Linked DNA regions of Homo sapiens. The protein of the gene in region 2 purifies or fractionates together with the protein of the main gene of each other region. This does not show direct contact. Each region holds a gene or a part of one and is shown on either strand. Other genes may lie near its edges.

Region 1 (4,838 bases), on a different chromosome or scaffold from region 2:
TTTTGTAGTCTCTAAAATGATCTGATTTTTCCTCCCTCCCTCCACTCCATCCTCTTGCAGTGGTATTAGAATTAGATTCAAAAATGTTCATTTAGGCTGGGCATGGTAGCTTATTCCTGTAATCCCACCACTTTGGGAGACCAAGGCAGGAGGATCGCTTGAGATCAGACTGGACAACACAGTGAGACCCCACCTCTATGAAAAATAAAAAATTAGCTGGCCATGATACTCCCTGCTACTTGGGAGGCTGAGGTGGGAGAATCACTTGAGCCCAAAAGGTTGAGACTGCAGTGTGCTATGATTGCTCCACTACACTCCAGCCTGGGTGACAGAGTGAGACACTGTCTCATTTAAAAAAAAAAAAGGGCCAGGTACAGTGGCTCACACCTGTAATCCCAGTACTTTGGAAGGCCGAGGTGGGCGGATCACAAGGTCAGGAGATCAAGACCATCCTGGCCAACATGGTGAAACCCCGTCTCTACTAAAATACAAAAAATTAACTGGGCATGGTGGTGCACACCTGTAGTCCTAGCTACTCGGGAGACTGAGGCAGGGGAATTGCTTGAACCTGGCAGACGGAGATTGCAGTAAGCCGAGATCACGCCGCTGCGCTCCAGCCTGGCAACAGAGCAAGACACCATCTCAAAAAAAAAAAAAAAAAAAGTTCATTCATTTTAAAACATTTCAAGTGCCAACTGCTTACAAAAGACTGTGCCAGCCCAAGAATACAATGTAAACAAGATATGGTACCTCATGGAACTTAAGAGTCTAGAGAACAGAGGCTGGAAAACAGACAATTGCAATATGACCTATAACATGCCATAATATGAAAAAGTATATGACGCTAGAGAACCTCAAAGGAAAGAGACCTAACAGTCTTGGGGAATCAAAAAAAGACTTCCTGAAAGAAATGCTGTCTAAAATGAGACCTTCTATGGATACTTGAGGTCACAGGTTTTCCTTCAGCAGATCAGGGAAATCTTCATACTGGGAAAATCACCATAATAATGACTGATATGAAATTGGAACTCTCTCAATACCAAGTCTACTGAACATGTTCTCTCATGTCACTTATTTGCTTAAGAACCTGAGTGGAGGCCAGGGCAGTGGCTCACACCTGTAGGCCCAGCCTTTGGGAGGCCAAGGTGGGAGGACTGTTTGAGGCCAGGAGCTCAAGATCAGCCTGGGCAATAAAGTGAGACCTCATCTCTACAAAAAAGCAGCCAAGCATGTTGGTTGTGCGCCTGTAGTCCCCACTACTGGAGAGGCTAAAACAGGAGGATTGCTTGAGCCTGGGAGTTCGAGGCTGCAGTGAGCTAGATCAGGCCACTGCACTCCAGCCTGGGTGACATAGCAAGATCCTGTCTCTTAAAAATAAAAAAGAAAGAAAATAACCTGCATGGTTCGCTGCCCACACACCTTAATACACCTTTTTTTTTTCTTTTGAGACGGAGTCTTGTTCTGTCCCCCACGCTGAAGTGCAGTGGCACAATCTTGGCTCACTGCAACTTCAGCCTCCCGGTTCAAGTGATTCTCATGCCTCAGCCTCCCGAGTAGCTGGGACTACAGGGGCCTGCCAGTATGCCTGGTTAATTTTTATATTTTTAGTAGAGACAAGGTTTCATCATGTTGGTCAGGCTACTTGGGAGGCTGAGACAGGAGAATCACTTGAACCCAGGAGGCGGAGGTTGCAGAGCTGAGATCATGCCACTGCACTTCAGCCTGATGACAGCGAGAGATTCTGTCTCAAAAAAAAAAAGAAAGAAAGAAAGAAAAGAAAAGAAAGAAAAGCCTTTCTCATAATGCCCACCTTTGGTGTTATTATCCTCCTCTTCCATCTTCACAATGTACCTCACTTGCGCTCATGTTGTACCTAGTCCTCATCACAGCACTGATAAATATGCTCTCTGCTGTACTACTGTAACCCGTCTATCTCACCTGAACTCCTTCAGGAACATCTTTTTCAGTCCCTAAAACCCGAAGCTAATTCCTTCCTTGGGGCCTTTGCACCTGCTATTCTACCTGCCTGAATACTCCCTCTGCCCCCCAGCACCACTAGATAATTGCAAAGACTCACCCCCTCACTTCGTTTAGGTCTCTACTGAAATAACTTACCCTTCATCTAGACAAGCATCCCATCACTCTCTTTCCCTTTACTTGGTTTTTGTTTATTACTTATTATACCTAGCACACACAGTTGTCTTCAATAAACATTCCACGTATATAAAGGCACTGTGTTGTTCACCGGTTATCCTTACAGCCTGGAATAATATCTAGCATATGTTATGTCTAGATAAGCAATTGCTGATAAATACTCATTAAATGAATAACAAAATGAATTAAACTAAAGCTCATCTGAATTCATTATGGCTGAGAAAAAAGGGGCAGGAGAGCATTTCGGCCTGAGCACAAAGAAACTGGGGGCTTCCTGGGAAGAGATCGTTTTGGTACCTGTCCCCCGCCCTCAGGGAAAAGCACTGTGTCTTCCAGCACCACTTGGAAACCGCTCAGCACTTCTTTCTTGCCGTTGCTCCCTTCAGTCTGCAGCTCCGCGGGACAGCAGGAGACCACGGTGGTGGTGAACTGAACAGAGAGGAATGAGAGAATAAGCCCCGACCCCAGCCCTAGCCCTAGCCCTCTCCACACCAGGACAGAATGCCATGTTGGCACTCCCTACACGTGGCGCCCTCTTCCCCAAACCGCCTTGCCGGCCCGGCAGTCTCAAGTGCCTCGCCGTGACGCCGTACCTCTCGGGCATAACTGTCACGCTGACACCAGAACGCCATACCTGCAGGCGTGTGAGGAGGCGCACGCGCAGAGAAGCCTGGGAGCGAACGGAGAGCGACGTGGGACAAACGTCATCAAGGGCGCTTGTCTGCGCAGAAGCAGGAGGGTAAGGAATGGAATGCGGTTTGGATAAATTTACTGAAAACGCGAATTGCATATTTGCTGGGTTGTTTAACGACTGTTCTAAGGCTTTACAAAGGACAAGACCAGGAGGAAAAAAACAAACAAACAAAAACAAAAAAACGCGACCTGGACAAGGCACGTGGTTTAGTGAGCCCCTTGGGGCCCCAGGGATGTAAGTATTCTGGCTGCGGAATCCCAGCGCATAGAGGCGGGGACGGGACTGGCATGGTTACTGAGCAGCACTGCCCAGTAGAAATAGAAAGCAAGGAGCTGGGGGAGGTGGCTCACGCCTGTAATCCCAGCATTTTGGGAGGTCGAGGCGGGTGGATCACCTCAGGCCAGGAGTTCGAGACCAGCCTGGCCAACATAGCGAAACTCCGTCTCTACTAAAAATACAAAAATTAGCCGGGCGTGGTGGCGGGCGCCTGTAATCCCAGCTACCCGGGAGGCTGAGGCAGGAGAATCGCTGGAACCCGGGAGGCGGGGTTGCAGTGAGCAGAGATTGCACCACTGCACTCCAGCCTGGGCGACAGAGCGAGACTCCGTCTCAATTAAAAAAAAAAAAAAAAAAAAAAAAAAAGGCCGAGCGCGGTGACTCACGCCTGTAATCCCAGCACTTTGGGAGGCCGAGGCGGGCGGATCACGAGGTCAGGATATCGAGACCATCCTGACTAACGCGGTGAAATCCCGTCTCTACTAAAAATACAAAAAATTAGCCGGGCGTGGTGGCGGACGCCTGTAGTCCCAGCTACTCCGGAGGCTGAGGCAGGAGAATGGCGTGAACCTGGGAGGCGGAGCTTGCAGTGAGCCGAGATCGCACCATTGCACTCCAGCCTGGGCGACAGAGCGAGACTCCGTCTCAAAAAAAAAAAAAAAAAAAAAAAAGAAGAACAATTTGGCCAGCGTGGCCAACATGGTGAAACCCTGTTTCTACTAAAAACACAAAAACATTAGCCAGGCGTGGTGGCACACGCCTATATAATCCCAGCTACACGGGAGGCTGAGGCAGGAGAATCACTTTAACCCGAGAGGAGGAGGTTGCAGTGAGCCGAAATCGTACCACTGCACTCCAGCCTGGGTAACCCAGCGAGACTACGTCTCAAGAAAATTACATTACATTACATTAAAATAGTTTGGGCCAGACACAGTGGCTCACATCTGTAATCCCAGCAGTTTGGGAGGCCGAGGTGCCTGGATCAGCTGAGGCCAGAAGTTCGATACCAGCCTGGCCAACATGGCAAAACCCTGTGTCTACTAAAAATACAAAAATTAGCTCGGTGTGGTGGCGGGCACCTACAGGCTGGGATTACATCCCAGCTTCTAAGGAGGCTGAAGCAGGAGAATCGCTTGAACCTGGCAGGCGGAGGTTGCCGTGAACTGAGATCGCGATACTGCACTCCAGCCTGGCTGACAAAGCGAGACTTCGTCTCAAAAAAAAAAAAAAAAAAAAAAAAAAAAAAAGCAAATTAAACCAGGTGCTAATTTTTATCTTGTCAAATATCTGAAACGATTTAGAGAATGGAACACTCTCATTGTTCGTAGGAGTGAGAATTGGTACAATTTCATCAAAGAGCAACTTGGTAACAGCTATCAAAATGTTTAAATGTATTTTATCTACTCCTTGACCTAGCAATTCTACTTCTAGAAATGTACCCTACAGATATCCTGGCAAAAATATGTAAAGATCCACATTTTTAAATGTTGATTGCAATATTGTTTGCAAATGGTAAAAGACTGCCGGACGCGGTGGCTCATGCCTGTAATCCCGGCACTTTGGGAGGCCGAGGCAGGTGGATCACCTGAGGTCAGGAGTTCTAGACCAGCCTGGCCAACGTGGTAAAACCCCGTCTCTACTAAAAATACAAAAATTAGCTGGGCCTGGTGGCAGGCGCCTGTAATCCCAGCTACTAGGGGAGCCGAGGCAAGAG
Region 2 (3,444 bases):
GTTGGACAGTCTTTGCCTCTAACCGTCACCAACACTCATGGGGTAAGTAGATGCTGTTATAAGGATGCCCATGCAACAGGTGGGAAACCTGAGCATCAGACAGGAAAAGCAGGTTACCCATGGCCACACAGCTGGACTCGGACTGGAAGAGAGGATGAGGGGCCCTGCAGGCCAAGGACAGGATGCTTCCTAGGGAAGGGGGCCCTGCTTGTTCAAGACATTCTCCTCCACCCCTTCCCTCCATCCCCATCACTCAGGACTGAAACTTTTGCAATAACAGCATTTCAGGGGCTTCAGCAGTGAATGGGGGACCACAGCTCCCCACTCCCTCCCACTCACACACAGAGTGTGGGGACTCCTCAGCCTCTGCAAGGGCCACTCTCTCACTCAAAGAACAGAGTAAAGGGCCTGGCTTTCCTCGTAGTCTGCAGGGGACTGGCCCCTCTATGCTGAACCCAGGGCCCCGTGAGGCCCCGTGCATTCAGTCACACACACTAGACTCTAGTTTCATGTCACCACTTTACTTTTCACATGTATAGCAGCTCTCTGCATCTAGGCTGCGTGCTCTGTGAGGGCAAGGATCCTCATTGACAGATACCATTTTTCCTTCCAGGGAGCCTTGGGCAGCGCTGGGCAGGTAATGTGAGCTGTGATACCTACTGACTGATCAGTCTGGGAGGGTGGGGCATGGCTCTGTTCACGCTGGCCACAGGGAGTGTATGACTTTGCTGAACTTTTTTTCTGCCTGAGGCTCAGTTTCCTGCTATTCTTGGTCTGTGTCTGTCTCCCTGAGGGCTCCAGGGCTGGCACCCGGTACGTGCCCTCCTCCCACTCTCACCTCTGCTGTGCCTGTCCCTTAAGCTGGAAGCACAAGCAGGAGAACAGCAGGGGCAGCCTCACCCAGAAGGCAAGGGGCAGCTACCTGACATTCCTCTCCTCTTGGCTGCTGGGGAGCCTAGGGGAGATGTCACGGTCTGAGGATGGAGGAAAATGAACTCACATTGTCTTTCTGTCCCGAAGGAGAAAGAGGGTCTGCCTAGAACCATGGAGACCCTGGGCCAGGGCTGCTTTCAGCCTGGGGAGCTGCTGGGTATGTGTGGGCAAAGCTGCCAGCACAGGAGGGGACTGTGGCCTTTGGGGCTGCCCTCCGGTGATCAGAACCCTTCTAGGGGAAGCATGGTGATGAGGGTTGGTTCACTCTGCATTTCAGAGGGAGGACCTCAGGCCCAAGAGGGGACAGGGATCCAAAAACCCTCCAGCTGCTTGGAAGGTTCAAAAAGGGGTGTGGACGCATCCACATCAGCAGGAAGTAGTAGGAAAAGTCACCAGGGAACACGTAAGGATGAGGCCGGGAGAATTTTAGCATGCAAATGGGTAGGATGGCCCGTTTACTGATCAGCTGCTGCCTCCTCCTTCTCCTCCATGTCACAGGAGCTCTGAGGCCGTGCCTTCGCCTCAAGCTCCCTCTCTCCAGCTGGCTCCACGTGAGGCTCCTCTGCCAGGAGGTACTGGGCCAGCTGCTCCAGGTGCTCCAGGCTTATCTTCTGCAGGCGCTCCTCGTGCTCCTGCCTTAGCAGCTGCAGCACGGCCTTGGCATCCTGTGGTTCAAAGTGTTTAGCTAGGACCAGTCCCAGCTGGTGCCACAGGGGCTGGGTCTGCGGCTGGTGGGCCTCCTTTAGCGCCATCTTCTCCAAGGGCTGCATGATGACATTGATAGAGGCATTGGGCCCAATGCAGTAGTCAGAGAGGTGCTTGTCATCCTCCAGGAGCTGGCCACGGAAAAGCAGGTGCTGCTGCTCCTCAGGCACCTTCAGCCGCCTGGACACCAGTCTCTTCAGCGTGGCTACACTCTCTTGCCCTGACACCTTCAGACTGCATCTCTGGCCCAGGAGCAGCTTGACTGTGAGGAACATCGGGCTGAGTGGAATCAGGAGGGATCCATGCTCTGGGAGCTGCCCTGAAGATTAGGGGGTCCTGCGGGAGATGTTGGCTTCTCCCTATCAACAAAGGGCTAGTAGTCCCAGGAGACCAGGGACCCAGCTTAGGCAGGCAGCCATTGGCTAGTGCACGGTGATGTCACAATGCTGCGGGGGGGCTCATTTCCAGAGTGGAACTTTTGGGACAGCAAAGGGGTATTTGGGCCCAGAGCATCCTTCCTCCACGAGAGGAGAAAAAGAGCACTAGGAAAGAAAATGTGGGACTGGGGGAAATGAGAGTGAGACTAGGGAAAGGGAGGGAGGGAAAGGACAGGGTGGTGGGAGGAGCATGTCTATTGATTTCTTCAACACATGTGTATTAGGTGCCACCTCTGTGCCAGCACCTGGACCTGGGGAGACAGTCATATTCAGATGGATGACTTCTGCCTTCATGACACTTTCACACTAGTGAGCTGGCTAGCATTTATCAAGCGTCCTCTTTCTGTCAAGCACTTTACACGCTCTTTTGGATTGGGCTTTCCAGCAGCAGACACTGAGACAGGGATTTGAGAACAAGTACTCAATTAGGAGGTGATCCCAGGAGGCACCAGGAGGGGAGTGAGGATGTGAGATGAGGACGGGAGGGAAATCAAAACGTGCATTCATGAGCAGGTTGCCATTGTGGGCAACTAGTATGTTATCCTGCTGGGGAGTTCTGGGAGGTTGCATGGAACACACCTGAGTTGCACCAGGTGTGGTTTTTTTGTTTTTTTTTTTGTTTTTTGAGACAGGGTCTCACTCTGTTGCCCAGGCTGGAGTGCAGTGGCATGATCTCGGCTCACTGCAACCTCCGTTTCCTGGGTTCAAGTAATTCTCCTGTGTCAGCCTCCCAAGTAACTGGGGCTACAGCTGCACGCCACCATGCCTGGCTAATTTTTGTATTTTTAGTAGAGATGGGTTTCTCCATGCTGCCCAGGCTGATCTCAAACTCCCAGACACAAGCAATCTGCCTGCTTTGGCCTCCCAAAGTGCTGAGGTTACAGGCGTGAGCCACCGCACCTGGCCGAACCTGCATCTTTATGCTCTGACTCCTGTCTTTGGCTAATAGAAGTGCTACCTCCTTGGCACTTCTGGTCCACAGGTGTTAAGCAGCATGCTCCTGTGACCACAGAAAAGTAGGAAGCCATCGGGCCCTCAGGAATGTGAGTGCTGAGGGGATGGGGCAGGACAGCCCACAGCATCTGCATCACAGGCCTGCCTAATTGAATCCTCTCAACCTATGAGGCAGGCACTGCCATGATCTCCATCTGCCAGAGGAGAAAGTGGAGGCTTGGCTGATCCTACAGCAAGCAGGCAGAATTGCTCTTGTCTTCACTGTTACCTCATGTTGCCTCCTAAACAAATCTCTGCTCAGTGCCTTTTGTGGCCCAGGCCCTGAGCAGGCACCCCCGGCTCAAAGGTGAATATGAAAAAGGACACTGATTGGGCCTCCTCTGTGTCTGCAACTTCTGCAGCATTTGGCAGTTTT

The links. The genes of interacting proteins can lie anywhere in the genome.
Region 1: the proteins of UBL4B (region 2) and AARSD1 purify together in Homo sapiens (affinity purification with mass spectrometry, with the first as the bait; one large-scale study listed by BioGRID). This does not show direct contact.

What each region holds. Positions count from the first base shown.
Region 1 is NC_000017.11:42,961,655-42,966,492, forward strand, and holds the start of AARSD1 (alanyl-tRNA editing protein Aarsd1), read right to left. Parts: upstream 2,801-4,838; 5' UTR 2,787-2,800; coding exon 2,748-2,786; intron 2,584-2,747; coding exon 2,452-2,583; intron 1-2,451. Other genes in the region: PTGES3L-AARSD1 protein, read right to left, coding at 2,452-2,583. UniProt on the Homo sapiens protein: Functions in trans to edit the amino acid moiety from incorrectly charged tRNA(Ala).
Region 2 is NC_000001.11:110,111,004-110,114,447, reverse strand, and holds UBL4B (ubiquitin-like protein 4B), read right to left. Parts: upstream 2,006-3,444; 5' UTR 1,914-2,005; coding exon 1,389-1,913; 3' UTR 501-1,388; downstream 1-500.